7 linked regions of the Homo sapiens genome follow. The protein of the gene in region 5 purifies or fractionates together with the protein of the main gene of each other region. This does not show direct contact. Each region holds a gene or a part of one and is shown on either strand. Other genes may lie near its edges. The genes, in order: SIRT2, SH3BGRL, MMAB, ZC3H14, RP9, VANGL1 and VANGL2.

The links.
Region 1: the proteins of RP9 (region 5) and SIRT2 purify together in Homo sapiens (affinity purification with mass spectrometry; one large-scale study listed by BioGRID and IntAct). This does not show direct contact.
Region 2: the proteins of RP9 (region 5) and SH3BGRL purify together in Homo sapiens (affinity purification with mass spectrometry; one large-scale study listed by BioGRID and IntAct). This does not show direct contact.
Region 3: the proteins of RP9 (region 5) and MMAB fractionate together in Homo sapiens (co-fractionation; one large-scale study listed by BioGRID). This does not show direct contact.
Region 4: the proteins of RP9 (region 5) and ZC3H14 purify together in Homo sapiens (affinity purification with mass spectrometry; one large-scale study listed by BioGRID and IntAct). This does not show direct contact.
Region 6: the proteins of RP9 (region 5) and VANGL1 purify together in Homo sapiens (affinity purification with mass spectrometry; one large-scale study listed by BioGRID and IntAct). This does not show direct contact.
Region 7: the proteins of RP9 (region 5) and VANGL2 purify together in Homo sapiens (affinity purification with mass spectrometry; one large-scale study listed by BioGRID and IntAct). This does not show direct contact.

The regions. Positions count from the first base shown.
Region 1 is NC_000019.10:38,879,385-38,883,093, forward strand, and holds part of SIRT2 (NAD-dependent protein deacetylase sirtuin-2), read right to left. Parts: intron 2,108-3,709; coding exon 2,048-2,107; intron 1,772-2,047; coding exon 1,716-1,771; intron 1,514-1,715; coding exon 1,437-1,513; intron 1,353-1,436; coding exon 1,301-1,352; intron 790-1,300; coding exon of another isoform or gene 757-789; exon of another isoform or gene 319-756; coding exon 248-318; intron 117-247; coding exon 50-116; intron 1-49. UniProt on the Homo sapiens protein: NAD-dependent protein deacetylase, which deacetylates internal lysines on histone and alpha-tubulin as well as many other proteins such as key transcription factors.
Region 2 is NC_000023.11:81,274,159-81,279,088, forward strand, and holds part of SH3BGRL (adapter SH3BGRL), read left to right. Parts: intron 1-2,825; coding exon 2,826-3,011; intron 3,012-4,172; coding exon 4,173-4,253; intron 4,254-4,930. UniProt on the Homo sapiens protein: Appears to function as an adapter protein that bridges proteins together or proteins with mRNAs. May function as a ubiquitin ligase-substrate adapter.
Region 3 is NC_000012.12:109,556,505-109,560,848, reverse strand, and holds part of MMAB (corrinoid adenosyltransferase MMAB precursor), read left to right. Parts: intron 1-1,693; coding exon 1,694-1,753; intron 1,754-3,712; coding exon 3,713-3,821; 3' UTR 3,822-4,344. UniProt on the Homo sapiens protein: Converts cob(I)alamin to adenosylcobalamin (adenosylcob(III)alamin), a coenzyme for methylmalonyl-CoA mutase, therefore participates in the final step of the vitamin B12 conversion.
Region 4 is NC_000014.9:88,576,042-88,580,971, forward strand, and holds part of ZC3H14 (zinc finger CCCH domain-containing protein 14), read left to right. Parts: intron 1-1,943; coding exon 1,944-2,099; intron 2,100-4,930. UniProt on the Homo sapiens protein: RNA-binding protein involved in the biogenesis of circular RNAs (circRNAs), which are produced by back-splicing circularization of pre-mRNAs.
Region 5 is NC_000007.14:33,095,983-33,099,966, reverse strand, and holds part of RP9 (retinitis pigmentosa 9 protein), read left to right. Parts: intron 1-530; coding exon 531-660; intron 661-2,604; coding exon 2,605-2,696; intron 2,697-3,412; coding exon 3,413-3,474; intron 3,475-3,984. UniProt on the Homo sapiens protein: Is thought to be a target protein for the PIM1 kinase. May play some roles in B-cell proliferation in association with PIM1.
Region 6 is NC_000001.11:115,693,361-115,697,166, reverse strand, and holds part of VANGL1 (vang-like protein 1), read right to left. Parts: 3' UTR 1-3,806.
Region 7 is NC_000001.11:160,409,972-160,414,901, forward strand, and holds part of VANGL2 (vang-like protein 2), read left to right. Parts: intron 1-4,930. UniProt on the Homo sapiens protein: Involved in the control of early morphogenesis and patterning of both axial midline structures and the development of neural plate. Plays a role in the regulation of planar cell polarity, particularly in the orientation of stereociliary bundles in the cochlea.

The sequences.
Region 1 (3,709 bases), on a different chromosome or scaffold from region 5:
GGGTCCAGGGATGGGGCTCAGGACAGGCTGGGGTTGCTCAGCTCCTCACCTTCCATCCAAGGAGCTCAGCAAGGGCCAGGCAGCCCTGGTCGCATTCACCCAGCCAGGCCACGTCCCTGCGGTGCAGCAGGAGATCAGAGTTCCCAGGCGGGCTCGCCCCTGCCTGCTCCTCTCATCTGCCTTCGTGCCCCCGCTCCCACCTCACCCTGTCCCTTCCAGGCTGCCCCAACCCCCGGCGGGGCCTCACCTGTAGGCCTTCTTGGAGTCAAAGTCCATGCCTCCTCCGAGGCCCATAATCATCCCCAGGAAAGGGTCCGACTGTCAGGGAGGGGGTGGGTCAGGGGCAGGAGCAGGGAAGGGAGAGCTAAGAGCACAGACCCTGGAGCCAGGTGGCCTGGGTTTGTATCCTAGCTCTGTGACTTTGTTTTTTTTTTGTTGTTGTTTTTTTGGTTTTTTTTGAGACAAAGTTTCACTCTTGTTGCCCAGGCTGGAGTGCAATGATGTGATCTCGGCTCACTGCAACCTCCACCTCCTGGGTTCAAGTGATTCTCCCGCCTCAACCTCCCGAGTAGCCTGGATGACAGGTGCCCAGCACCATGCCCGGCTAATTTTGTATTATTAGTAGAGACGGGGTTTCACCATGTTGGTCAGGCTGGTCTCGAACTCCTGACCTCAGGTGATCCACCCGCCTCGGCCTCCCAAAGTGCTGGAATTACAGGCGTGAGCCATTGCGCCCAGCCAGCTCAGTGACTTTGGTCAAGTGACTTGTCCTCTCTGTGTCTTAGTTTCCTGTAGAATAGGGGTGATCACAAAACCGCGATGGGGTTGTGGCGCCAGTGAGTTCACGCAGGCTAAGACTTGGGACAGTGTCTGCCCACAGCGTGCGCTGCTTGCCCGGTGACCCTGCCTACTTCCCCTGAGGGGAACACCTAGGAGGGAGCACCTGCCCTAGAGTGAGGCTGCCCAGGAAAAACAGACCTGAGAGACCCAGAGCGTGGACCCAACCCCGCCCCCCGCACTGTCTCTCCTGACCCCTGCACCCCCTCCCACCTCCTCAGTCCCTGGAAGCCCGGCCTTCCTATCTGGCTTCAGCTGGTTTGAGTTGGAATTCTATCACTTGCTCAAAAGGGCAGTGAATGTCCCAGAGGCCTGGAACCCGACCCCTCTGGATTCTAGAGCCCCAGGTTCTGAGCTGAGGAATGCAAAGTGCTGGGGTTCCACAGTGGGGGTTCCCTCTGAGGAAAAGGGTGAGAGGGAAGGGGGAGCCTGTGACGACGGGGGCTTGAAGAAGGGCTCTTACCTGGCCAGCTTTCTCCTTGTTGATGAGCAGGCGAGGGGTGGAGAGGGGTGCCCTGTGGGGAGGGGGAGCTAAGGGGTCAGGGTCTGTCCTGGCCCTGGGTGCCCAGCCGTCCTCCCAGCCACAGCCCCCAACCTACTTGCTGATGAGGGAGGCAAAGGGCTGCACCTGCAAGGAGGTACCCATGACCAGGAGGAGGTCCACCTTCAGGAAGTCCTGCGGGGAGGGGCGTGAGCTTGGGAGCCTCCGCCCAGGCTGCGCCACCGCTCCCTCCCCCGCCCCCAGCAGCAAACCTCCCTGCCGCCCCCCATAGCTGGGGAGGTGACCTTTCCTGAGGCAGGGCCCAGGCTGCCCCCATGGGGCCCAGCACAGGTGGAGGCGGCGGTTGGGGATGCGGGGAGGCTGGGGGGCCACTTACTGACTGCATACAGGAGAAGAAACGCGCTGGGAGGCTCTCACCAAAAAAGACGATATCTGAGGTGGAGACAGATGGACGGACAGAGACAGTGACATGGGGAGGCAGAGAGGACAGGTGGGAGCAATGGCAGACCCGGAGGCCACAGTGGGAGTTGGGAGCAGTGGGGACCGGCCAGGGGCACAGACCCCATTCTCCCCAGGATGGATCTGGGGCACTGTTCAGAGAGACAGAGGTGGCCAGATGTGTGCGGGTGTGGCCTTTGGGAGGGGGTCAGGGGGAGGAGGGGACCCCCACCCAAATCCACCTGGGCAGGTCCCTGGCCAGAGGCTCACCAGGCTTCACCAGGCTCTGACAGTCTTCACACTTGGGCGTCACCTCAGAGAAGATCTTCTCTGGGTATGGGGAAGGGGAAGAAAGAGAAGGCAGTAAGAGGATCTGGGCCGGAGTCTGGAGGTGCAGCACCCCCACCCCTCTTCCACTGTTAACATGAACACACCTCCATCACTTGGAGTGTGATGGGTGTCTCCTGAGGTGTCCACTCTGCTCAGAAAAGACCTCTCTTCTTGTTGTTGCATTTTTTTTGTTTTTTTCTTTCTTTTTTTTTTTGAGATAAGGTCTCACTCTGTTGCCCGGGCTGGAATGCAGTGGCACGATCATGGCTTACTGTAGCCTCAACCTCCCAGCTTCAAGTGATCCTCCTGCCTCAGCCTCCTGAGTAGCTGGGATTACAGGTGCATGCCAGCACGCCCGGCTAAATTTTGTATTTTTTGTAGAGACAGGGTTTCGCCATGTTGCCCAGGCTGGTCTCAAACTCCTGGGCTCAAGCAAATCTGCCCACTTTGGCTTCTCAAAGAGCTGCAATTACAGGTGTGAGCCACTGCGCCCGGCCTTATTGGTTTGTTTGTTTTTTTGAGACAGGTTCTCACTCTGTTGCCCAGGCTGGAGTGTGGTGGTGCAATCATGGTTGAGTGCAGTGGTGTGATCATAGCTTACTGCACCACCGACTTCCCAGGCTCAAGTGATCCTCCTGCCTTAGCCTCCCGAGTAGCTGGGCTCACAGGCATCCACCATCGCACCTGGCTACATTTTATTTTTTTTAGAGATGGGATCTCCCTATGTTGCCCAGGCTGTTCTCAAACTCCTGGGCTCAAGTGATCCACCCACCTCGACGTCCAAAAGTGTTGGGATTACAGGCATGAGCCACTGTGCCTGGCCTTATTTCTTATTGATTTAGGAAGCTTGAAAGCATTTCTGGCCGGGTGTGGTGGCTCACGCCTGTAATCCCAGCACTTTGGGAGGCTGAGGCGAGTGGATCGTTTGAGGTCAGGAGTTTGAGACCAGCCTGGCCAACGTGGTGAAACCCCGTCTCTACTAAAAATATAAAAATTAGCCAGGGGTTGTAGCACGTGCCTGTAATCCCAGCTACTTGGGAGGCCGAGGCAGGGAGAATTGCTTGAACCCGGGAGGCGGAGGTTGCAGTGAGCCGAGATTGCACCACTGCACTCCAGCCTGGGTGACAGAGCAAGACTCCATCTCAAAAAAAAAAAAAAGAAAGAAAGAAAGCATTTCTGTCACTTGCAACCCACTGAATTCTAAGTCATTTGCTCAACTGTCCATTCATTCATTCAGCACACATTTATAAAGCATTGTTTCAATGTCAGTAGTCGGTAATTTTCTTTAAAATATTTCTGCATGGACAGCATGACACCGTGGGTGCTGCCTGTGACGCTGCTGTCAATGACACATAATGGGGGTAATGTGAATTGTACACTGCCCCCAGCTGCTTGCAGTTGGGCTATTCAGGAATCCTCAGCCCAGGGGCACTCAGCTGGCATTTTATCAGAACAGCCACACTCCAGAGGCCCTTCTGCAAATGCTGCAGCTGTCCTTATCTCACAGGGACACCAGAGGCTTTGTTAAATCAGCATAAAGAATGTCAGAAATGGCTTTCCATGAGTGGAATAAGTGACTTCTTGTTTTTTTTTTTTTTTTTT
Region 2 (4,930 bases), on a different chromosome or scaffold from region 5:
ACCTATTCCTCTTGGTTCTGGCAATATATGGTTTTCAGTCTCATGCATTCACTGTGTCCCCTTATTTTAAGTCCTATTAGGGAAATTAGGAAATTACCATCACCAGATGCTCCCTTATAAGTGTGTGTTATAGTGAACATGTGCCTATAGGTGTATAAGAAAGACAATAATTGGCTGGGTGCAGTGGCTCATGCCTGTAATCCCAGCACTTTGGGAGGCCAAGTTGGACAGATCATGAGGTCAGGAGTTCGAGACCAGCCTGACCAACATGGTGAAACCCCGTCTCTACTAAAAATACAAAAATTAGCCGGGTTTGGTGGTGTGCGCCTGTAATCCCAGCTACTCAGGAGGCTGAGGCAGAAGAAATCACTTGAAGTGAGCTGAGATCACGCCACTGCACTCTAGCCTGGGCGACAGAGCTAGACTCTGTCTCAGAAAAAAAAAAAGCAATAATTATTTATATATTAGAAATCTCCACTTGAGTGCAGGAGTTTGAAGCTGCAGTGATGCAAGCTCATGATACTGCATTCCAGCCTGGGTGAAACAGCAAGACCCTATCTTGGAAAAAAAAAATTAAAGGAATAGATTCCTTCTTGGAAATAAACTTAATATGTGAAATTTTGGACTTGAAAATTTGATCAAGTTAGGAAACATTTTTTTTTAACTTTCCCTGAAGATTCAAAGCTGAACAAAAGTTCATATTTGACATGGCAGAACCTATTAGCAAAGTGTGATTATGGCCAATTCTGTTCAGCTTTATGGAGATGTAGAACACACTAGTAGGTATGTGTACTTGTCATCAGGCAATCTCAGGGCATGGGAGAAATACTTGGTCATTACTCTCCAACTGATGGCTGGAGAGTAATTACTTCAGTGAAGGTACACTATCATGCCTAGTGATACCAGGCCTGGCGACCATTTTAACTTAGCACAGTGAGTCATGTTCTCGACAAAGTAAGCATTCAATAAGGTAGGAAAAGCCTCAAAAAATAATTTATCTTAAAGGTCCTCTGCTCATGCAAATGTGACTGATGACATTCTGCCAGGGTCATGTATGTAAAATTCTTAGCATGTCTCTTCACTCATTCAAAAAAAAAAATCTGTTGGAATGCAAGTTCCCTCAAAGTATGGGGTTTTCACACGTTGCCCAGGCCAGTCTCGAATTCCTGGGCTCAAGCAATCCTCCTGCTTCAGCCTCCCAAAATGCTGGGATTACAGATGAGAGCCACCGTGCCCAGCCTTGAAAGTACAGTCTTAATAGGACATCTTTATATCTACTCAAATTTGTAAATATGCTAATGATCGACAAATTACTTGACACAATTGACATTGACTGAACCCACCTACTGTACCTCAGAAATTGAAACCATTGATTTAATGGAACCTTTCATCAAGTGCATTAGTCCACTAGGCACTCCTATTTATTGAGTTTTACATTGATTTTTCTCAGTTCAAAAGAGGGCATATGTTACATTTAGGAATGAAAGTTTGATTTTATAAGCCAATTAAAAAACAGAATTCCCATTAGAAAAATTACCTTGTAGCAAGTTTTGCTAGATTCTAACTGATCTTTAAAGAGGGACATTCAGTACCCTAATCTAAATAGCATTGAAAACTTTCCGTTTCTTTTGGGAGAAATTGAGAATTATTTTCCCGAGTTTATGTGATGAGAGAGAAAATTATTTAATCACAATCACGAGCAACTTAGAAAGACAAAAACACAACTTTTATGCATATATGCATGTATGTGGGGGTAGATGGAGGGGTGTAAATCCAGAGAGGGACTTGATTGTGAGTTTCTTATTTTGCATTTTTATTCTCATTGGCAGACAGATTTATTTTATTTTATTTTTTGATGACAACACTCCATGTGTCTTTATTTTAATGTGATTCCATGAAGAAACTTGCTTATTGATTACGGTCCTATAACTCAGAAATGTTAAGTTATGGTTTTAAATAGGGGTTAATTACCATTGATGTGTGAATACAGGTTCTAAAAGAAATGCATGTCGGAAGAGAAACTGAACTGAATAGTATTAATTTTACTGTTTTCAAAGCTCTCTTCTAGCTATGATAAGGAGACAGAATACATGTGCCATCTCCACCTGGTTATCTAGATGAACATATTAGGTTGGTGCAAAGGTAATTGCAGTTTTTGCTATTGAAGGTAATGACCAAAACTGCAATTACTTTTGCACCAACCTAATACATAATACACATAAAAGATACCTTAGCAGCACATGATAAGGGCTAATGAATGGTACAGATATATTGCAAACTTTATAGTTTGTAGGATTAGCTAATATATTCTTGTTCAGTTTCTGTTTTGAACACTGAAAATTGAGACTTGAATGACTCTTGAAGCCTGTGCACTTTGTCAAGGAAAGATTCATTTCTATTGCATATACAATTCTTGTTAAGATGGGAAGCAGACGCATCATTTGGAAAAAACTTTCTTGAAAGGCTGAAACTAAGAGAGGCTTGTAGAGTATCAGAAAACATAACTTTTCACTGCACATAATTTGGAGTTAACTGCATTTTTAGATATTGATATGCATCAGTTAGTTTTGCATGTACATCATTAAATAATGAAAATTTTCAATGGAAAAAAAAAAGAGAAATTCAACTTGATAAAAGGACCAGTGGACCAAAAGCTCTTCAATATACTTGTGAGGCATTATTAACAATACAATAATAAAGAGTGAAAATCATATAACTTCTGTGAAACCACAATCTTTGTTCTGTCTGAATTCATTTCTGCCAGCTCACAAACATTTGACTTTTGTTGAATTTGGAAAATACGGTTTCTTGTCCTTTGGTCCTAGATTAAGAAGAAACAACAAGATGTGCTTGGTTTCCTAGAAGCCAACAAAATAGGATTTGAAGAAAAAGATATTGCAGCCAATGAAGAGAATCGGAAGTGGATGAGAGAAAATGTACCTGAAAATAGTCGACCAGCCACAGGTTACCCCCTGCCACCTCAGATTTTCAATGAAAGCCAGTATCGCGGGGTAAGAAAACAATTTAAATTCTTGTTTATTGTAATAGATTGCCCCAAATCTATCCATTATTTTCACCTCTGCCTCCAAGCCTGCATATATATAGTCATATCTCTTGCATATAGTCATTTGTCCTTTCCATCCACTCAAAGGCTGGATGTAGACAATGGCTACATTTTCTAAATATGTTTGCTATTGATTATGCATCACAGCCAAATTTAGGAAAGTTTATTTGTTACTTTTTGAGAATGTGTTGTGGCTTATAAGATGACAGTAGGAATCCCAACCAAATTTAGTCATGTGAAGATTCTCTTGCATTCCCCAGGTTGAAACCTCTTAGCAGTTTGGTTGCTCTTCTGGTCATGCATCATGGACATCTCATTGCCTTTCTCAAAACACAGCAAAGATTAACTATTCTTCTGGCCTTGGGCATGTCTAGCTAATATCTAGTCTATTGTAGGCTCTGAGAAAATCTCAACCTAAATGAATAATGGAACAGAAATATGGTGAATGGAAACAACAGTGTCTGACCAGAAATAAACATCTTCTTACTGGGAAATAGGTGGCTGTTTTGCATGGTGGAGGAAGCTGCAGGCAGAGTTAAATTCCATGTGATGTGGAATAAATCATTCTGCAGTTTTTGTGACATAGAATAGCATACTTTTCAACCTATATTAAATAAGATCCAGAAGCCTTGCCTCTTTATTACTCCTTATTCCTTCCAGAATTCTAGTATTATGGAAGTTAGTCTCTCTGTCCCCAAGGAGGTAGATGATTCTGTCGACCAGTCAGGTCATTCTGAATAAATCTCCTTTTTTTCTTGAGATGGAGTTTCCCTCCTGTTGCCCAGGCTGGAGTGCAGTGGGGTGATCTTGGCTCACTGCAACCTCCGCCTCCCAGGCTCAAGCGATTCTCCTGCCGCAACCTTCCAAGTAGCGGGGATTACAGGCATGTGCCCCCACCCCTGGCTAATTTTTGTATTTTTAGTAGAGACAGGGTTTCTCCATGTTGGTCAGGCTGGTCTCAAACTCCCAACCTTAGGTGATCCGCCCACCTCGGCCTCCCAAAGTGTTGGGATTACAGGCGTGAGCCACTGCTTTCGGCTGAATAAATTTCCTTTTTTTCTTTTATTGGTTGCATATTGCTAATTCATCTTATCTTCTTTTCATCAAGGACTATGATGCCTTCTTTGAAGCCAGAGAAAATAATGCAGTGTATGCCTTCTTAGGCTTGACAGCCCCACCTGGTTCAAAGGTATGATACCCTTTTTTTCCTGTTTTATAGGTCATTTTATTGCTGCTGAACTTTTTTAATCAGTAAGATTTTCATTTTTGTTAAGTATTCAAATTAAGTCAGAGACAATCCTTTATAGCAAAAAGTGCCTTCTCTGCATCCACTTAATTCCTATTAGGGCAGAAAGATGTGCATAACCAAATGCATAAACTATGTGTTTAGCAGGTAGGTAGAGTGACTTCCCCATCAAGCTGCCCATGGGAGCAAATTTCTCATTGACCTATGCACAGATAAGTGCTTAGCAATTTTAAAGCCTTCATTATTCCAGCTGTCCTGCATGGTTCTACATCGACAGTAAGCATCTTAGTTCATGGTAATCTCCTTGGCAGCACTTATTGTCTTTGTGTGAGAGCAAATGATAGAGTCATCCATTCAAGTTAATTAAGAGCATCTGCATTGCAAAACTGGTCACTAAATTGCTCGCCAAATTTGAGGCTTTTTTCCTGCCAACACAAATTAATTTTTTAAGTAGCAGCATTTTCAGGAGAGACCAAATAAAGAAAGCAACAATAAAGTTGCCTGTCTAGTGAGATGTCCCCAAACTATCAACTTTAAACATACCTTTGCCTTTTATAGTAGTTCTTCACACAAACTGCCTTAATCAAAATGCGTGTCTCTTGCTCTGTCATTTTATGTTT
Region 3 (4,344 bases), on a different chromosome or scaffold from region 5:
TCCACTGTGCCAGACGGGGACCAGGACAGACCAAGTCCCTGTCCTCAGAGCACCATGTTGTGAAGTGGAGACAGTGACATGTGACCAAATAGACTATCAGACAACACAATTGCACCTTGTTTGTGAGCCCTGTATTCTGAGAACAGCAGGAAGTTATTGCTGGGTTCTCAGCCTCAGCCATCTTGGGGACAGGGGTAGACATGAAAGGACCCTGCTGGCTGCTGGGTGCATAAGGCTCCTGAAAGGCCTGCATGGCTGTGGGGAGCCCAGGTGGACGTTGTCAGCAGACTAGCCACCACCTCCTCCAAAGCTACTGACAGCCTTTTCAAGGAATCTTTAGAAGAAAATGAGCAAAGTCTCTATCTACACCACTCAGAGACCAGGCTGCCAGCCAGCTTTACAGAGAAGAGAAAGCAAGCCCTACTTTGATCCAATGGACTGGCACTTTATGTTCATAATTTCATTTACTCCTTGTTGATAGCCCTGGGAGAGAGGTGGTGGTGGCCTCTGTTTTACAGGAGTCAGGAAGCTGTGGCTCAGAGAAATGACACCATGGTCACGGTCCCCCACATGGTTGATAGCAGAATCCAGATTGGAGTCCACGTCTGTCTGGGCCAAGCCTGAGCTCTTCCACGGTCCCACACCACTAAGGTTTTGTTCTTTATGAAAGGCTCTCGGGCCCAGATAGCTCCTTAGAGATCCCAGGTAACAGAACAAGCTTTGGCTTCAAAAGAAAAAACTGTCATTTGTACAAAGCCATCCATCAGCAGTGCTCATAATAGCAAGAAACTGGAAACAACCCAAAGGCCCCGAAAACAGGCATGGCGGAGCAGCTGATAGGTCCTCCATGCAGCAGAGAGTTACGCAGCCATGGCAGTGGCAAGGTGCAGATTGTCCTGAGGTGGGGACACACACCTGGGGCACCTCGGGTGAGGAAGCTCCTCGCTGAGCATGCGGTGCCCACTAGAGACAGCCTGGAGCTCTGTGACAGGCCTGGGTGCACACCCTCCTGGGCCGCTAGCCGGGTGCATGGCTTTGGGTGGGGATGAGAACCCTGAGGCTGGGCTTTGGGTAGCTGGCTTGCCAACAAGGGGTATGCCACAGGGTGATACCTGGGAAAGGCTCGGCAAGGGCCCGCCACCACACTGGTGCCCAGCAGATGGCCGTCCAGTGTCTAATGTATCTGCAAATAGACTGGCATGGACCCCAGGAATCCAGAATCCTGCGGAATCAGGAGCTTGGTCTGCCTGGGTCTTTTTCTCCCCTGTGAAGTTGTTCTAAGTCATGATGTACAAGGGGCTTAGAGTTTAGCCCATTGGGAATTAAGGGTCAGGCCCCCACTTCCTTTGAAGGCTAGAGGCAGACCACCCCAACTTCACCCCACCCAGACCCAGGTCCAGTGGTACAAAAGCTGGCTGGCTGGGGTGTGGTGTAGGCCAGGTGGCTCCCTCAACTCACCAGCCATCCTTGATCCCTCCTTGGCCAGGCCGTCCTGCGATGTGCTGGTGGAAAGGGGGCCGATGGCCTGTTTAAACCCACCTGTGATGGATTTGTCATCTCCACTGCCGGCCGAGCCTGTGCAGGTTCAGGTTGAGCGGTGGCAGGATGTGAAATGCTGCTCAAGGTTTAGGCCCAGGTCAGAGCCTGTTGAGCCCCATAATGTCACGTGACTCAGTGTCTCCTCCCTTTCTAGTGTGGTGCCTCTTGTCCAGATGGGAGAGACCGATGCGAACGTGGCCAAGTTCTTAAACAGGTACTCGCGTGGAACCTGGGGGTTCCTCTCTGAAAGCCGAGGCTCATCTGTGGGAAGTAGCAGCGGTGCAGCGGTCCGGGAAGCAGTGTGGGGCAGCATTCCCGCACCCCCTCCTTCATTCCCTTAGTGTTTATGAACATCTGCTCTGTGCCAGGCACCACGCCGGGCACAGGGGAGGCAGTGGTGAACAAGGTGGGCCCTGTGCCTGTCCCGATAAGATTTAGATCTTATTGGGAGAGGCTGCTGTAAAAACCAGGAAGAAAAACCTAAGTGCAAAGTGGCATTGCGGGGGCAAAGGGCGTTCTTAGAGGCTGGGTGCTCAGGGGAGGCCTCTCGGTGGTGACTGACCAGGGAGCCAGGCTTCAGGCCCTCTCTCAGCCAGTTTCCTGTCCCCGAGAGGGCCTGCGGCAGCATGAACCAACAAGAGAGCCGGGCCAAGCTGCGCTCAGGGGACCCCATGCAGGCCCCAGTGAGCCAGGCTAGCCCAGGGAGGGCTTCCTCTGCCTCGCGGCCGGCCCATGAGGCTGGAGCCACACCTGGCCCAAAGCCTGCTCTGCGGGTTCCTGCCCCAGCCCTGGCTTCTGTGGCATCAGTGTGGGCAAGGCCAGAGCCTGGGGGCAGGTAGAGAGCTGGGGGAGCAGGTCTGCACCCCAGGAGCTGTCCTGGGTGTCTAGAAAGTGACCTCAGGCCCTTGACTGTGGCCACTCCTCCCAGAGACATGGCGCTTTGACGGGTCCTGAGCAGCTCCTTTCCTTCTGGGAGGGGGGTTTCGCCGGGAGTGAGGAGCAGGTCTACTTCACCTTCAAAGCAGCAACCCTGCGGTCCCATAGCATTGCACGGGACAGGCCATTTCATCTCCTCAGTGAGGCTTCACAGAGCCAACAAGCAACAGGCACACCACTGCCCTCCAGGAGCATGCGGCCCAGGGGTAAAATACCCTGAACAACCTCCCCTTCGCTCTTCCTGAGAGCCAGCCGTGGGGCCCAGGGGGCCTGAGTCAGGGGAGGACTCAGGAGGATGTGGTGTGGAGCTGGCCTCTGAGGGCAAGACTGGGGCAGAGAGAGAGGGAGGAACGTGGTGCCTCGTGCTGGGAGTGAAACAGCAAAAGGTGCGGACAGCAGAAGGCAGAAGAGCTGACAGCGTAAGCGCCTTCTGGGGCCCGTGGCGTCGTCCTCTAGTTCCCTCCACTGCTGCCCCTGCAGAAGGCCTCATGCACAGATGACCATTGCTGTTGGTTCAAAGGAGGAGGCGGGAAAGGGGCTGGGCTCTGGTCTCTAGAGTGCTCCAGCCTGTGCTTCTCACCCGGTACCTTTGGCGATGTTTGGAGGCATTACTAGTTGTCACACTGGGTGCAGGGGTGCCACTGGCACCTGGTGGGTGGAGACCAAAGGTGCTGTCAGCATCCTACACTGCACAGGATGCACAGGACAGCCCCGAACACACAGAATGATCCAGAATGTCAGTAGGGCCTAGTCCAGCAGTGTCAGCATCAGCCAGGGCAGGAACTAGACCTGCAGAGCCCCGGGCCCAGCCCAGCCCAGCCCTCCTGAGTCAGAATCTGCACGTCGCTGAGATCCCCTGGTGATGCCTGTGCACACTGTAGTTTGGGAAACACCCAAACTGATCACGCACCTGAGCCCTGATCACTCAAAGGTGCAAAAACCGGCTCAGAGAGGAGTCCAAAGTCATCTGCCCCATGGGGTAGGGCCGGGGCAATGGCCTCATCCTGCAGGAATGGCCCCAGCCTTGACACTGGAGTAGAGTCCTTGGCATTCACAGCAGCTGGCCTCGTGTGCCATCCATTAAGTGCAAGATGGCTGGGCCCCCGCCCTCCCTGCACAATGTGCCCAGAGTGCGTCATTTATATCTCCTCCTTGTAGGCGGATATGGGAAGACCCAGTTAGCGTTGATCTCTCATTTCAAACCATTCTGTTTGCTTCTCTCTCTCTGCCCCTCCAGACTCAGTGACTATCTCTTCACGCTAGCCAGATATGCAGCCATGAAGGAGGGGAATCAAGAGAAAATATACATGAAAAATGACCCATCGGCCGAGTCTGAGGGACTCTGAAATCACAGAAAGTGGGAGCTTGGAGGATCCCTCCATGGCGATGGCCGTGGAGAGAGGAGCTTGCCCTTCTGGGGTCCTGGTTCCTGAAGAGCTCACCCAGAGAGGCTCAAAGCAGCCTTTTGTCCCAGCTCAGCTTTGATCTACACCTCTTGCCACCTTCCTCAAGGGACTGTGACCCTTTGGGGATTCTGTCCCTGACCCTGCTTCCCCAAGCTCTCCTGGGTCTTGGAGGGATGTGGGAATGAATTGGCATTGCAGGAAAGACAGGTAAAGTGATTGCTGCAATGAGAAGGAGCTGTGCGGAAAAGGAATAAAAGTTGGAAAGGCTGGAGCCGTGTGTGTGTGTGTGTGTGTGTGTGTGTGTGTGTGTGTGTGTGTGAGAGAGAGCCCTCCCACTGCCAGCTCAGGTTGTTCACAGATTTGGAATGGGACCAGAGGCCCTTGAAAATGTAATTGTGATTTACCTGTGCCAAAGGTGCTTTAAATGTCACATTTGTAAAGGGGAAGGCGGACAAGATTTGGA
Region 4 (4,930 bases), on a different chromosome or scaffold from region 5:
CAGATGTCAAGACCAAGATGAGGTTCCCATATAGAAAAATGGCTTTAAAAGGAAATTGACAAGTTTGAGAAACTTCGCCAACTGTTATTGGACTGTAGTTTTTCAAGCACCATATAATGCCTTTTATATCTTTCCAATGTGTGTAAAATATATAGTACGTAAATATTTTGAAGAGAATTTTGATGAAGTAGGACTTTCATATTAGTAGCATTAGATTCAACATTAGATATGAATTTACGATGTGTAAAGGGGAGTACAATTGGACAATGATAGGTATCTGAAGTTATAGAAATTTGTTAAACAGTAGTATATAAACAAGGTTGGTTTCTTCCCTTTTGGCGGAACTCATTAGTAGAATATAAGGCAGAGAATTGACTCATTTGTGATGTTCCTGCTCCAATTCTAGTGGAAGTACTGAATAATTTTATGAGAGAATATAAAAGTATTACGTTTTCAAAACAGGAGATGAATCAGCTGTAAGCTGGTCTTACGGAAAGCTGATTCTGAAATGCAAACAACTGATGGGTGTCATTTTGTGTTGTCAAATTCTGTACTCTCTGGCCGACCTGTTGTAGCCAATGTGTAAACTTGTGTTAAGAAGCTGATGGTAATGAGCTACTCTAAAAAGATTTAAGTTTTGCTGTGGATTTGGTGGGTGTACTTACAGCATTGCCCTGCTTATCCACTCTCTCGCTTTTTTTTGTGACCCCCCTTCCTAAAATGAGGTAAACTGTAGCCATCAGTTTTTTTATTTGTTTTCTTTTTTTGAGGCGAAGTCTTGCTCTGTTGCCCAGGCTGGAGTGCAGTGGTGTGATCTTGGCTTACTGCAATCTCTGCCTCCTGGGTCCAAGCGATTCTCCTGCCTCAGCCTCCCAAGTAGCTGGGATTACAGGCGCCCACTACCATGCCAGGCTAATTTTTTTGTATTTTTAGTAGAGGCGGGGTTCCACCATGTTGGCCAGGCTGGTCTCGTACTCCTGACCTCAGGTGATCACCTGCCTCCTCGGCCTCCCAAAATGCTGGGATTACAAGCGTGAGCCACCGCGCCTGGCACCATCAGTTTTTGATCCTGATACTTGTCTGTCCTCTTGGTTCTCCTCATCCCTAATTTAACCTTGAACACAAAATTCAACAGGTTTTGGCATATAGAATAAAGATTATCAGGCAAAGGCGCACTCTTGACCTAATGATATATCTACATTTCATTTCCTGATCTATCAGCAATATTAATTGTCTAGAATGATGAGAAGTTTAGAGAAGTTCCATGACTTTGAAATTTTCTTTCTTTACCTAGGTTATCTAAATTACAATTTGAAACTCATATAAGATCATGAAGCTAAGCTTAAATAAACCGCATTTTGTTGAAAATGAATACATATGTACTATATTGTATTCATGGTATGTGGTTGTATGGATATTGTTTACATATGTTTGGATAAATAGGTTCAGGTATCTATCTCAGTAACGTAAGAAAAAATGAATGGTATCTATGGATTGAACTCCTCATATATATGTTCTTTTCTTTTCTTTTTCTTTTTTTTTTGGAGACAGAGTCTCACTCTGTTGCCCAGGCTGGAGTGCACAGTGGTGCAATCTCGGCTCACTGCAACCTCCGCCTTCCGGGTTTAAGCAATTCTCCTGCCTCAGCCTCCTGAGTAGTTGGGATTACAGGTGTGTGCCACTATGCCCGGCTAGTGTTTGTATTTTTAGTAGAAACGAGGTTTTACCATGTTGGCCAGGCTGGTCTCAAACTCCTGACCTCAAGTGATCCACCCACCTTGCCTCCCAAAGTGCTGAGATTACAGGCATGAGCCACTGCGCCCAGCCTGAACTCATATGTCCTAAACCAAAGGAGGCATTTATATTTAATATGACATAGTCACTGTGGAGTTTTGACGTATTACTGCATTTGTATTTCTATCTTTTTTGCTTTTATGTGAAAGTTCCACAGAAACAGACACTTCCAGTTGCTCCCAGAACTCGAACTTCTCAAGAAGAATTGCTAGCAGAAGTGGTCCAGGGACAAAGTAGGACCCCCAGAATAAGTCCCCCCATTAAAGAAGAGGAAACAAAAGGAGATTCTGTAGAAAAAAATCAAGGTAATAACTTAAATGATGTTTCACTCTTTACTACAGTTTTTTCATGAGGCATTGAATATTTTCCAATGGATTTTTATGAAATATTACACTATGAAAAAAGTGATGATTAAGCCCAGAAATAGAATGAGAAGAATACCATGAGGAAGGTTCATACCAACACTTCAGAAAAAAATTTTTTTTTTAAAGAGGTAGGGTCTTGCTGTGTTGCCCAGGCAGTCCTCAAACTCCTGGGCTCAAGCAGTCCTCCTGCCTCAGCATCCTTAGTAGCTGGAGGTGTGTACAAGTGTGTGCCACTGCACCCAGCCCTTTCTAGAAATTTTTGAAAGTCTTTTTATTGTGGAAATTTTTAATATTCTCAAAAATGGAAAGGCTAGTACAGTGAACTCTCATGAACCCAGTCATTAAGCCTTAGTTATTATCAGAATTTTGCTGGTCTTTAGATAGCTCCTTCTTAAAGATATATTTATTTCTGCATTCTTTCTTTTTCTCTTTTTGTTGATCCTGCCCGTTTACCTGAACTTGAAATTTTAGTTACCTTTAAATCTCCCGTCTCTTAAGCATCCTGTCTCTGACCTCCCATATGTGTCCCAGCAACCCTAATTTATCCCCTCGTGCCTAACATACTTCAGTTTGCTTCCAGGTTTTTTTTTTTTTTTTTTTTTTTTGCTTTTTTCTCAGCTTTCTCCCCCAATTCCTATACAATCTTTTGACTTTGAAAGTGTGTCTCTCATCTTCTGACTCCTTTGTGAAAGTATCTCTCCCCTCCTCCTCATTACCCAGAACTAACGCTATTAGTTTGGACTTTTGGTGTCTGTTATCTGACCCCTGGGCCTGCACAGCCCTTCTCCATGACTCTTCAGACCTTTTGTCTCTTTTGTCGTCAAGAAGGATTCTTTTTTCTTCTGTTTCTTTTTCTACTAAGATTTGAATTTTAAGACCCCACCAAAAAAATCTATATGCTTATTATGTTATTTCTCACATACTTTTCAAGAACCTTGGAATATATTTTTTCATTTCTTCAAAACTGTCCTTTAAATTGTTCCAGGTTTCATGAAACCTTATGATTTCAGAATTGTCAATTCTGTATTTGTTTCCTCATTGTGTCTCTTTAAAAATTTTTGACTGTATTGTTCAGTTTGCCATGACAGCGTTATATACTATTCTGATAATTGATAGGCCTGAGGACAAGACCTGTTTGGTCCCCAAACAGCAGATAGGTACCAATTGGAAAATGTGAATGGGCCAAATTGAGAAGAGGAGCTGAAACTGAGGAGGGATTTTGCTCAGTGCAGTGGCAGATGAGGCTGATCTAAAAGGACTGCAGTGGTCTACTCCCTGTGGAGTCTGTAGTGTGTTGCACCAAGGTTTTCTTCAAACACAGGACTCTACGTGAGAGTCTTGGAGTGGAATCAGATGGAGCAGGGAAACAGACAATAGAGAAAAGGAAAGAATGTCAGATAAAAATAGGAGAGGAAAACAATAGGAAATCTCAAAGCAAGGTGCCATATTTTTTAACATCACAAAATCAACAGAAGAAGGTTGTTGATTCTGAAGTTAGAATAGCTATCCAAAGCAAACTTTCCCCTAAAATGAACAACAGAAAAGTATCAAGGTCAAGTCCTGTGCCGAATTAAAAGATAAAAGGGAATAAAAGACAAAACAGCATTGTTTCAATGAAAGCATGCTGAAAGGTATACCAAAAAGAAATACAATTTCAAAGTGAGCTAGAAGACATTATTTAAATAATACAAGACAAAGCCAAGAAAAACATAAAACAGAAGAACTTTGAGGCTGGGTGCAGTGGCTCATGCCTGTAATCCCAACACTTTGGGAGGCTGAGGCAGGAGGATCACTTGAGACTAGCCTGGGCAGCATAGCAAAACCCTGTCTCGACAAAAAATAAAAATATTAGCTGGGCAAGGTATACACCTGTAGTCCTGTCTCCTTGGGAGGCTGAAGTGGGAGGATTGCTGGAGCCCGGGAGGCTGAGGTGGGAGGATTGCTGGAGCCCAGGAGGCTGAGGTTGCAGTGAGCCACGATCATACCATTGCCCTCCAGGGAGGCTGAGGTGGGAGGATTGCTGGAGCCCAGGAGGCTGAGGTTGCAGTGAGCCATGATCATGCCATTGCCATCTAGTTTGGGCGATAGAGTGAGACTGTGTCTCAAAATAAATGAAGACTAAATTAGAAAGAACTCGAAAGAATTAGTGCGTCTTAATAAAATAAAACATGCGTGTAATCCCAGCAATTTGGGAGGCCAAGGCGGGAGGATCACTTGAGGCCAGGAGTTGAAGATCAGCCAGGGCAACATAGCAAAACCTTATGGCTACAGAAAACAGCAATTTAAAAATAAATAAAATTAAAACATCTTCAGAGAAATTGAAGATAAAAGACAAGAACATTTTAAAAGTCTAAAAGGGCTCATGAGAAAGTGGCAAATATTGATAATAGGCAATAGAAATACAGTGTTTTTATAGTAGGAATCTCCAAAGAAACAATATTCAGAGGAACAGAGCAAACATTAACTGTCTTTCAAGAAAACTTTCATGAAGTGAAAACATGTTTGAAACTGTTGTCTGAAAAATTGTACAGTATACCTGAGAATATTTACCCAGAACCATAACACTAAGATGTATTATATAATTAATGAAATTTTAAAAAGAAAAAAAATGATTTGGACATTCAGGCAAAAGGGGCACATGACTTAGAAGAAAAGGAAAGGTAGATTATCATCAAACTTTTCAACAGCATCACTTTTGTGCTGGAAGAAAATGGACTAGCATATTTAAGATACTCCAGAAAAGAAAATGTGAGCCAAGAATTTAATGTCCA
Region 5 (3,984 bases):
ATATTCATAGAAACTTGAAAAAAATCCAAAAGTTTGAAAACACATTAATTGTAAATGCAGTTATTGAGTGGTAAAAATGTACATCAGAGATATAGCATGTGTGTGACTGTAAAACATGACAGGGCCTTCAGGGTATAATAAACTATTCTAGCATAACAGGCCATTTCTATTATTCCAGGAAGCCTGGTTTACTTTAATTCTATATTTTGAGGTAGTGAAACTTTTTTTTTTTAATCTCAGAATCTTATTTGGAGCTCCCCAGTCATTGCTATATAAGGACAGATTTTTCTGCTTCACCAGTAACTTTTCTCTAAGAACAGCTACATTGTTTTTGGTATAGTTCTTCTGGTACATTTGTTTCCTGTTTTTTCAATCAGGTGTAACTTGTCTTTTTTTCTAGTTTTGAGGGGTAACTAAGATGATGTTGGCACCGGAAGCCCAGGAAAAAGCCAGGCAAGGGTGGCTCCAAGGGGAGCAGGAGAGAATCCCAGCGCTCTTGCCATGCTGTTTATACCTGTTCCCTTTTTTAGGAAGATGAGACTAAGCCAGAAGATTGCATACCAGATGTACCAGGCAATGAACACGCCAGGGAATTTCTGGCTCATGCACCAACTAAAGGACTTTGGATGCCACTGGGGAAAGAAGTCAAAGTTATGCAGTGTGAGTGTGGGAGAGTTTCCCTAATCCATGCAACTTACATGCCTCAATTTACAAAGAGTGTTTACTTCTTTTATTTAACTTGTTCTCATCACAGCCCTCTTACAGCCAAGGCACGTTCTCCATCTTCTAGATAAGGAAGCATCCACCCCACCCCCCACCACCGTGCCATGTGAAGAAGAAAGAGGGCTGTCATCTTAAGCCAGGAAGAAAGCTCTCACCACAAACCCACCTTGCTGGGACCCTGATCTCAGATTTCCAACCTACAGAATGAATGAGAAAACCAGTTTCTGTTGTTTAGGCCACCCAGAATACGGCATTTTGTTATGTCAGCCCGAGCTGACTAAGACACCATCTTTCTGCAGGTCCCCTTAGCCTCTCTCCCGTGTTGGATCACCCATTTTCCTGTGTCTTGAGTCTTCTTTATTATCATATTCTCTCCTTATGGTGTAACAAATCCTATGGCTGTTACCTTCAAAATGGGTTTATAGAAGATAAAAATGTTAAGACCTTTACTTTTCTGGAATCGTCTTTAACAGATTTTTAACTACCAGGATATTGAATTCTAATTTAAAAATCAGTTTCCTTGAGAATTTTGATGGGAATGCTTCATTGCCTTGATTATTTGTTAAAAGCAAAGACAACGTGCCTCAGAGTTCAGTATCTATCGGTTTTTCTTCTTTGGGTGGGTTATATTTTCCCAGAGAAGGCTCCCACGTGGAGGGAAAGCCATACTATGAGTGTTCTGGGAGCCGAGTGGAGGGAGTCTGGAAATGTGTCCATCTGCTTTTCATTCATTCGTGTGACCCTTTGTGGCTATTGCAGCAGCTTCCTTCAGACCTACCTGATGTCTCCCTGGTCTCCCTGGCCAGAGACCCTCTGTTTTACCTTTTCCACACATTAAACAACCTTCTACCAGGGTCAGGAAAACAGGGTCTCACTCTGTCACCCGGGCTGGAGTGCAGTGGTGTGATCACAACTTACTGCAGCCTCAACCTCCCAGAATCAGGTGATCTCACATCAGCCTCTGAGATAGCTGGGACTACAGGCATGCGCCACCAGGCTTAGCTAATTTTTTTGTACTTTTGTAGAGATAGGGTTTCACCATGTTGCCTAAGCTAGTCTCGAACTCCTGGCCTCAAGCGATCTACCCGCCTCTGCCTCCCAAAGTGCTAGGATTACAGGTAGGAGCCACTGTGCCCAGCCACCATTAATATTCTAAGAGAACTTGTGATTTTATTTACTTAAAAGTGAGAGTTTTGAACAGACTCAACCTGAGAAAGAAGCTTTTATAGTGTCTAAAATAGTAAATGAGAAGCAGAGATACTTTATGAAAACATTTACTCTGAAAAATATACTGAAACACACTTTAAAAAAAATGTACCTTTTGGGCCGGGCGTGGTGGCTCACGCCTGTAATCCCAGCACTTTGGGAGGCTGAGGCGGGCGGATCACCTGAGGTCAGGAGTTGAAGACCAGCCTGGGCAACATGGCAAAACCCCATCTCTGCTAAAAATACAAAAATTAGCTGGGTGTGGTGGTACGCACCTGTAATCCCAGCTACCCAGGAGGCTGAAATAGAAGAATATCTTGAACCCAGGAGGCAGAGGTTGCAGTGAGCTGAGATCACGCCACTGCACTCCAGCCTGAGCGACAGAGCAGGACTCCATCTCAAAAAAAAAAATTCACCTTTTGAAGTAATTCTCCATTGGATTGCTTCATAAATACTTGGTGATAGAATATTATTCCTAAAGGTATAAGACTAAAGGATGCTTGGGGAAGCAATTAGTTTACCTCTGTTTCTGGGATCTTACATGGCTTGTCCATAATTATATTTTGTTTTAGAATTAGAGTTTAATGAAGAAAAACTTGAATATATTCTGCTGATTCTTTATCTTGAGTAGGTGAAACTGTTATCTTACAGAAATATTTCTCTTTTCGTTTTTAGGTTGGCGTTGCAAACGCTATGGTCACCGAACGGGTGACAAAGAATGCCCTTTCTTTATCAAAGGCAACCAAAAGTTAGAGCAGTTCAGAGTGGTAAGTAAAGTCCAAGAGTGTCAATTTACATTTATCAGAGATAGTGAAAATCAGTGAAGCAGAAAGTCACCAGTGAACTTGAATGGTCACATAAAATACATTCCCAGAAGCCCTTTGACCAAAGTGTGTGCTGTTAACTACATGCTTATTAAATTACATTTGTATGACAAATTAGCTCTTTTACAAAAAAAAGGAATTCTTATTAAAGTGATCTTTGTTTGTAACTTGGAACAGTGATTTTTTTTCTGAAACAGACATTGTTATCTATTCAACCGCACTTTTTAAAATTTACTGTGTAAAAAAGTCATGTTTCATGACTGAAATCAGGGATTTAATTTCCCGGTCTTTAAAGAGTACATGTCTTTAAACTGTAAGATTAAAGTGTCCGTATATTTTTTCTTTAGATGACAGTTATTCCCTGTATTTTTCTTTGTTTTTGAGGTGGCAGTGTTATAGCTCTGTGATTGCTCCTGCAGAGCAGGGCTACCCCAAAGACAGTGTGCTGAGAGTAGCCATTTCCTGTATTTTTCTAATTGGAAAATCCATTTTTTAGCCTTAATGAGTTTTCAGTGATGTGACCTAGAACATGTTGAACATGCAGCTACATCAAACAGTAAAAAAAAAAATAAACTGGTTTTCATAACATAGGCATTTCATTGTATTTAACTTGTGATCCATGAAGCCTAACCAAACCTTAACCTTCTCTGACCCTTAAGGCACATGAAGATCCCATGTATGACATCATACGAGACAATAAACGACATGAAAAGGACGTAAGGTGAGGTCGTCCTGATGATAACAATATCCCCTTAAAGTTTTAAAATTATATAAAGTTGGAGAAAACCACTCTAGTGTTAGAGGAATGGTGCAGTAAACATGGTACTTCAATTGTGAAAATATGTGGAGTGCAGGAGTCATGGCTGAAAAGGCCAGTGTTGGGGAATGAGCAGGCCAGCCTCCTCCTCCTTGGGTTAACTTAAAGCCATGGGCTTGGTCCAGCTCTCTGGCCACTGCAGTTGATGTTGGCAACCCATGTTGTGCTGTCTACTTGTACAGTATAATTGATATTTTCATGTGATTCAGTTTATCTTCTCCAGAGTCTTTAGGGATGTGAGCTTTTGTTAAAAATTATACTTAGGCCAGGCTCAGTGGCTCACACCTGTAATCCTAACACTTTGGGAGGCCGAGGCCAGCGGATCGCTGAAGTCCAGGCGTTTGAGACCAGCCTGGGCCATACAGCAAAACCCCATCTTTACAAAAAAATATAAAAAGTAGCCAAGTATGGCAG
Region 6 (3,806 bases), on a different chromosome or scaffold from region 5:
CAAGTCCCATCACTAACTCCCTGAGCAACAAGTCTCTGGTCCCCACAGATGAAGCTTTCTTAGGCTGAAGGCTTTTTAGAATTAAACACTCCTAAATGATGAGCAACTTCACAACAAAAGGCCATGTCTACAAGTGAAAGCTCAGATAAAGATAAGCACATACAAAACCAAACAACTGTACATTCAAATAATGCTTCCCAAATACCATTTCAGTGCCAAAAGAAGTGCCAAAGACACTTTTAAGATAAAAGCCTGGGGTTTGTCACCTTTGTCCCCAAAGCTTAAAGTAAGTGTCTTTCTTCCACTATGACAAGGACAAAACGCTGATGTTTGTAAGCTGAGAGAGACATAAATGGTAGAGTCTTGGTGCCATATTGAAAGAAACTTTTCACAGTGCTGCACCTGGCTTTAGGAATCTGCTCTTTTGTTGGAGAGACTAAAACAACCCACTAAAGAGGCTTATTTCATAGACAAAACAAATTGGGTTATCTACGTAGAAACGGAACAGGACCTGGGAAAACGGGACTTATAGAGCCCTGAAATTTAATTTTATTCTGAAGTTTTACATTTCTAATCCATCGCATCTTAATTCCTAATGAGATGTCACATGGAGAGATGTGAGCACCATCTTCCCTTTACTGTCTTCCATTGAAAGCAAACAGCAGGGCAGAAAACTATGGTTTATGCACAACTGAATCAAAACTTACTACATATGGGAACAGAGAAAAATGGTTTTCTGAGTCCTGTTTTACGTCTGCTCTGTCAAAAGTCTTGGGGGCAAGTGTGAGAAAGACGGTGGGATGCAAACTGCTTGCTGAGAACACCTACGTCAAGGAGGCCAGGCCAGGGACTCCGGCTTGAGATCCCCACAGGATGGGGCTGTGGACAGCCCCTCTCACTCCAACCAGGGAAGAAGTTTGGGGCATAATGTTGCCATGGCACCAGAGAGAGGCCAGGTCAAGCCCCTGCCTGCCTCCCTGCACCCAAGGCCCAAGGCACGCATCTTGCCCAAGCCAGCAGAGTGGGAGCAGAAGGTGGGGCCAGGCAAAAGCAAAGGGGGGCTGCCAGAACAACAGCATCCCTGTCTTGCAGCAGGTGTTAACACTGAAAGGCTGGGTTTTCCAGAAGGGATTCTCAAGTTCTTTCCATCAAATATCCTAAGATATTTGCTAGCATAGTGGAGAAGCTTTCCAAGGGACAAGGTGTAAATCCAAAGTGAAAGAAGAGATCCTGCCTCCCAATGAACTCTCACCCCAGGTTCTAGTTCAAGGATGTGTCTCTAGGTCCTTCCTCAACATCCAGAAGTGCCGAATCATTTAGACCATACTTCAAGGTACAGTGGACTGAGGGGTTAGAATCAAACATCTAGTTTGAAATTCTGTTAACCAGACATGAGACCTTGGACAAGCCCCTTCCTCTCTGACCTTCCGTTTTTCACCCGAAAAACCAAGATGACTCCTATCTTGAAAGAATGTGGGGATAACAAGGCTGGGTGGAACACGGACTGTGACATACATTACCTGATAAATGTGTTAGTAGCCTTTCCTTTCTTTGACCAAAACATGTTTTGTCAAAATGTGATCCAAAACTGAATTTTCTGAGCATACACTTGGTTAAAGCTCAATGCAGTTATTTCAACAGTGTCTAAACTATCTCATTTCGCTACTGCACTGAATACCAATCAAGAACGGTGGGCAGAAGAGCAATTCTTATTTTATTTATAATGAAATACGACCACAAGGTTACATAGTAGTAAATTCACAGTAGTGATTTTTTTGTTTTTCAGTAACAAATCCGTAAATCACAAACACTACCCAGAAATACTTAAATCACTTTACAATCGCAGGGTCTCTGCTGCAGGACTATTTAAATAAATATGCTAACATTTCTGTGCTACTGTAAGTAACCTATCACTTTTTAAAAATAAAGCCCAATTTTTAAGTTACCTTAAGAAATATCTAGTAAGGCTTCCAGGGTAGTGAAGTTTGAGCAGTAATTTTCTTAGAGCTTGACCTTTGTTTGTTTGTTTCTTGCTGTTTTCAGAGTCCTAAAGCAAGAAAGAGTTTAATGGACTTGCCTGCAGGACAGCAGGCTCCCCAGAAGACAGTGCTGTGCTAAAGCCATTTACTCTAGCGGGAGAAGCCAGTGTCAGTGAGGGAAAGGAATAAAGCAGGGGAGGGAAAAGTCACTGGTTTAGAGCGACCTCTCAAAACACAGGGTTATTAAGTCATCTCTCAAACACAGGGGACTGCAGAAACACAGACACCCTCACACACTCAGCTATATACACAATGACACGTATCTGCTGAGCTACACACCTGCTACAGATAACACAGATGTTAAGATGTCTGACATATAAATGTGCTATCCGTCTGGTAATACACTCAGAGAAATGCTCACATATATGGAAATAAAAACGCACAAACAAATATGCATCCCCACTTAGGGATACTTACACAGCAGGACCCAGATTGGAAGGTAAACCAAGGACTCACTTTTGTTGGTTTCACTGAGTGGCTGGAGCACTCACTCAGTACGTAGGTTGGAGTGGCAAGGTAATCAATTTCTGTCAGTCCAATATGCTGGTAGCATCCCACAGAGCTACAGCCCTTAGGTAAATACATGCACTCGAAAGTGATTATGAGGCAAAATGAGAGAGAAATCTACCACCAACTACTGTAGAGAGGGCAGGGGTGAGCACTTTATCCCTATCCAACACACACCTGCACAGCTAGTCTCTCCATTAAAAAAGGAGTCCCAAGCCCCAGGCAATGAACTACAACACAGCAAACACACCAGGTCACCTGCCTCTTACCATTTGCTGTAAAGAACTTGTCTTCCATGTAGATGTCAAAAGGCAAGAACAGAGGCGGGGGAAGGGAGGTGATGATAGTTGGGCAAAAATTTGGTGGTCAAGTATTTTCTCTAGGGCTTACTTTATGAATTTTAGCCAAAGTATTACAGATTTGACTTAACATTTTGATAATGCAAAGGATGGATGAACTATATAGCTTTAAAATCCTCTCTGAGAATGCATACAGAACTTTTTAACATTCAGTTCATGGACTATAAAAACTGTCCTATCTTCAAAAGTACATATTTAAGAACAAATTATCTACCAGTTAAAACATCACCAGGGAAGAGAGCAATCTCAGATATAGACTCCTCATTAAGTTCTTTAACACTCAATGCTCTAATTTTAATAACGTAGGATGAAAATTATAAAAAATCTATAAACATATAAGGCAAATGAAATCCTGTCTACTATAATGTGAACATACATTCTACCAGCCTTAGGGCGAAGTTTACCCCCTTTTAAAAAGAATAGCCTACCAGTTCCAAGAATTGAAATAAAAATGCATTGTGTTCAATTGTGGGATGCAGCTTTCTGAAACCTTAAATCTTTTAAATGTCATTTACATTGTTCCCACTGCAAAAGTAACTCAAGCTATAAAGAGGTTGAAAGTGCAAAGGCTTTACAAAGATCCTGCATTTTATTTTGTTATTCTTTCAAAAAGAACTCAATACAAAGTCAATATAAAAAAATCAATACTCAATTTAAAACAGAAACAGTAATTTCTGAATGTCTAACATTCTCCTATGCAAAGACTGGGAGAAAGAGGAAGGGGGAGAGAGAAAATAAATTCTTTAATTTAAACCTTTCTTCACCCTGCTGGGAATGCACATGCCAGAGCAAATGAATCCAGCTTAACCCCTTCTGGACTGGTCATTGAAGATAGGGTTGGAAGAACAGTATTTTAGAATGGTGATGAACAGTGTCATTATTAACTATATGTACATACACT
Region 7 (4,930 bases), on a different chromosome or scaffold from region 5:
GGGAAAGGGGTGCAAGGCATATGCAGGAAGACCCAGGCTCCTGAGTAGGAATCGGAGACCTTTAGTGGGCAGGGGCCCACAGACGACTCTTCAGGCAGGTTCTGAAGCAGTAATCACACCCATTTCCCTGTGTTCAGGCAGAACCACCCTTCCCTAGTCCCTGACTACGGAGAGAAAAATGGTCCTATCAGAGATCTCTGCCCCTGTCTGAGGAGAACTTGAGGCTTCTTGTCCTCTTTCCCATCGTCTTCCCGTCTGGCTGGAAGTCTTTTAAAAATCAAACCCAAGCACCCTTCTCAGCTGCTTCCAGCCCTGTCCTCGGTGGAGATGAGGAACACTAGGTGCCCTTTTTAGGTACATGTTTTGCTCTGTCCCTGCCCCCCTTTTCTTCCGTGGCCTACTCACCCTGGTTTCCACAGCTCTTTCTCCCAGCCCCGTCTGCATCTATGCTCTGTCTCATTACCTCACCCCAGGCCTAAAGTAGCCGGGACTGGGCTGCGGGGTGGGCCCGGGCTAGAGCAGTGGCAGGAGGTGGCGTCTGGAGCTGCCTGCGTCTGGTCATCGGCCCCCAGCACGCGCCACACATGGGGGTGCTGGCGTTTGTGTTCAACGCCTTGCCCACTTGAGCCGCCTCCTTTGAGTGGGAAATGGGAAAGGGTTGGTCCGCCCTGGTCTGTGTTTTGGCCAACACCCACCCCCCTTATACACACACACACACACACACACACGCACGCACGCACGCACTACTCTAGGGCCCTGCTCCCTCTGCCTGTTGCCAGGTTCTGAGTGTATTTTTTCCAGAGGCCTCCAATTGTTTCCTGAAGAAACCTGATCCCAGAGCTCAGACAAAAGCTGGGGCCGCCAGAGGAGAAACCCCATTCTCTCCTCCTCTGTCCCTATTGCCCCCACCTCCATAACCTCCCTCCCTTTGGATGCTGGGTATGGGTTCCAGGACCCGGCTGCCATCACCTAGGCAACAGGGGGCTTTTGTTGCCATGGTGATCAATGTGGGAGAAGCTGGGCAGCAGGGACAAAAGCCCCCACATTCCCCCCTGCCAAGCTCCCCCCCAATCCCCTTGGGATGATACTGAGACACATTCCATTAATTTTATTTCTGAAAGGCCTTTGGAGGGGAGAAGGGTCTCCTTTTTGTAACAGGCTCTCTCTTCTCTCCCTCTCTCCTCCCTGGCCTCATTTTAACCCCAGATAATCCATGGTTGGTTTGAGCAGGGGACTGAGTGTGTGTGTTTGTGTCTTGGGAAGTGGGGGGCAAGGTGAAAGGCAGTGGGGCACATTCCTTTTCTATAGCCTCCCCCTTCCCCAGACTAGGGCAGCTCCCTGTCCTGCACCAAGTCCGGACTTCCCTCCCTGTCTCGTCATCCCTCTTGACGTTTCCACTTGTTGATCTCATCCAGCCATCCCCTCCCCCCATCTCTTCCCTGGGAACGCTGCCCACCCAGGGGACCCTCCAAACCCCTGATCCCTGAGACTGATTAAATAAGGGGAACTTCTGCCCTTCTCTTTACTCCCCTCTCCTCCCTCCTCCCAGGCCCCCCAGCAGCAGTGCTTGGATTAGTTCCCTGGTGTACTTGAAGACACAGCAGGCAAGGGTCTCAGAAGTCGGGTTCATTTTTGGCACCTGTGTTTGGTAGGGAGGAGACAAGCGTGTTTTGGTGCTTTTTGGGCACTCTGACTTGGGTTGGCAGGCCAGGGGAGCAGGATTCATGTTGAGTCTTTAGTAAGTAGCAGGGGAGGAAGATAGGGGGCACTAGGCTGGGCAGCTCAGAACAAAAGGGGACTGGTACCCTTGTCTGGTTTGAAATTTATCTGTAGGGGAAATGAAATGGCATCAGTTTACCTTCTGGGTGTGTTTGAAGTGGTGGTTCTGGTTGGTGTGTGTGTGTGTGTGTATGTGTGAGACTTCTTTATTTAGTTGTACTAACAGCAGGGTTTATTTATACCACCTCTTTCCCTAGTCTCAGAGGAAGTGTCTGAGGATTGGAGTATGAGTGATCCTGGAGCTAAAACTTGTTAATTGCTTAACTAATTACTAGCTGAACCATTTATAAAAGCACTTCTTTCACCCTCGTGATCCTTACGGCTACCCCATGAAAAGGCATCATTGTCTTCACTATTTTACTAATGAGCTTACCAGGCTACAAGCACAGAGGTGTTAAGTAACTTGCACATAGTCACACAGCTAGTCAGTGGAAGAGTTAGGTTTTGAACTCAGATCTTTGAGTGCACATCTCTGGCTCTTCTGGCTGTTGGCTTTGGCAGATGATGGGTATACAGGAGGATGAGGAGATGGACAGCCTGGGATCTAGTGTGTGTGTCTAGACTCTAGTCCGTGGCAGTTGTTTACTTCTCCACCCCCTTCTCTACCCCCATGTCACTCTGTGACCCACTCGTTGCCTTTGAGCCTCCTAGCAAAATTCAGTTTTTATGAAGAAGACTAGAAAGAATAGGCTGGAACCACAAGAGAAATGCAGGTCAGATGTCTAAACTATAAGGAGGAGTAGGCCAGTAGAATGGGTCCTCAGGAGAGTGGGTAGATGAGCCCAACATATATTTTTCAGGTAGGGGGATAAATAAGGGTCATTTTTGCTGCAAAGTTTTTTGGAAAGGCTTATGGTTGGGTTAAGGTATTATGTCCCTGTCCTCTAAGTGTGTCCTTATCACGCACGTGCTTTGACATGGGGATACTGACAAATATAACTAATCCTATGGAGGATTGCCTCCATTGAACTCTGTTAAGAAGATGAATGAATAGATTTCACATGCTTTCATCTCCCTACAGTCATTATAGTTTCCCTGAGAGCCAGAGAGGCATACAGTCATGGATGTTTTGGTCAACGATGGACCACATATATGATGGTGGTCCCATAAAATTATACTATTGTATTTTTACTGTACTTTTTCTATGTTTAGGTACACAAGTACTTACCATTGTGTTACAGTTGGCTACAGTGTTCAGTACAGTAACATGCTGTACAGGTTTGTAGCCTGGGAGCAATAGGCTATACCATAAGGCCTATGTGTGTAGTAGGCTATACCGTCAAGGTTTGTGTAGGTACATTCTATGATGTTCCCAGGATGCAGCTGCCTAATGACACATTTCTCAGAAAGTATCCCTGTGGTTAAGCGAGGCATGACTATGTTCATTTACTAGGTTGGTATCAGTTCCTTGCTCTGTGCCCATGGGAGGCGAGATGGATATAAATATGTATCAATCATATTGCTTATTCTCAAATTACTGATGGTTTAGAGTAGTTGGAGTAAAGGTAATGATACAAAGCAAATCCATTTTAGGTTTTTTTTTTTTTTGAGACGGAGTCTCGTTCTGTCGCCCAGGCTGGAGTGTAGTGGCATGATCTCGGCTCACTGCAACCTCCACCTCCCAGGTTCAAGCAGTTCTCTGCCTCAGCCTCCTAAGTAGCTGGGATTACAGGCACCTGCCACCATGCTTTTTAGTAGAGACGGGGTTTCATCATCTTGGCCAGGCTGGTCTTGAACTCCTGACCTCGTGATCCACCCGCCTTGGCCTCCTAAAGTGCTGGGATTACAGGCTGGGATTACCCGGCCCCATTTTAGTTTTTAACATAATCAGCCTCTCAGCAGCATTTGACCTGGTTGACTTAATTCCCACCTCAAAACACTGTTAAATTTCTGGCTGCCTTGAGACCCCACTCTTCTGGCTCCCCTCCTCCTCTGGCCTTCTCATCCCCTTTGCCTGCTCCTTTTCCTCTGGACATGTCTACCTATTGGGGTCCTTTATGTCCATGGAAGAGTTAGGTTTTGAACTCAGCTGGATCTGAGTTCTATCTATCCCCATAGCTTTTCACACACTCAGTACCTCCAGCTCAGACTGTCCTCCAAGTCTGGCTCGTCTGACACCTGGCTGCCTACTGTCTCATGGCCACTAACTTAGCAGGCTAGAAGCTGAACTAATTATCTTCCCTCACAAGGCTGCTTCCTCCCCAGTCTTCCCTACCCTACTGATGGTGCTACCATCTGCTCCCTTGCTCAGGCCGGGGATTCTTAACTCTCCCTTCCCGCTCATTAGGTCCTGTTGATTTGACCACCAACATTAAGTCTCAAACATGACTGTTACTCACTCTTCTGTGGCTCTACCCTTAGCAAGCCTGTACTACTGCAGTCGCCTCCTTATTGATCTCCCTGTTTCTATTTTTCCCTCTTTTCAATCCATATCTGCATAGCTAAAATCCTTCAAAGTTTTCCTGTGGCCTTAGAATAAAATAAAGCTCAAGCTCTTCACCTGGTGCCTGGCTGTCTCTGCAGTGCCACCTTCTACCACCCACTCTCTTCCTCAACTCTAGCTCCACTGGCCTTTGTTGGTTCTTTAAATACAACAAGCTCTTTCCTGCCTTTGGCCTTCACACATGTGATTCCTCTGCTCCATGGGCATTTTCCTGCACTCTTTGCTTGGTTAATTCCTATTTCTTCTTCAGGCCTCTGCTGAGGTGTCCTTTTCTCAGACTTTCTAGAACCGCTAAGTTTAAAGTGGTAGCCCTTACTCCATGGGTGTCTCTCATAGTTTGCTGTTCTGCCCTTCCATCATGCCTGCAATCGGTCGTTTATACTTATCTGCTTACTTGTTTGGTGTGCCCCTTCCCTGCTAGACTGTAAACTCAGGGTCTGTTATACCACTTTATACCTAGCAGAATACATGGTTCATAGAAGGTGCTCAAACAAGATTTGATGCGTCAATGACTGAAGATAGGAAGTAAGCGCTCGGTGGATGGTGATGGCTGTTAGGGGAGTCAGGGTCAGCAGGGAAGATAACATTGGGTCTAGAGTAGGTGGGGGCTCCTATGAGGGGGTGGGGCCGGGCTCTGAAGAATGAGCAGGATTTGGGTGGGGGTTAGAGAGAGGAGAGGTCATTCTCCTCTGCAGAATCAGAAGGTGA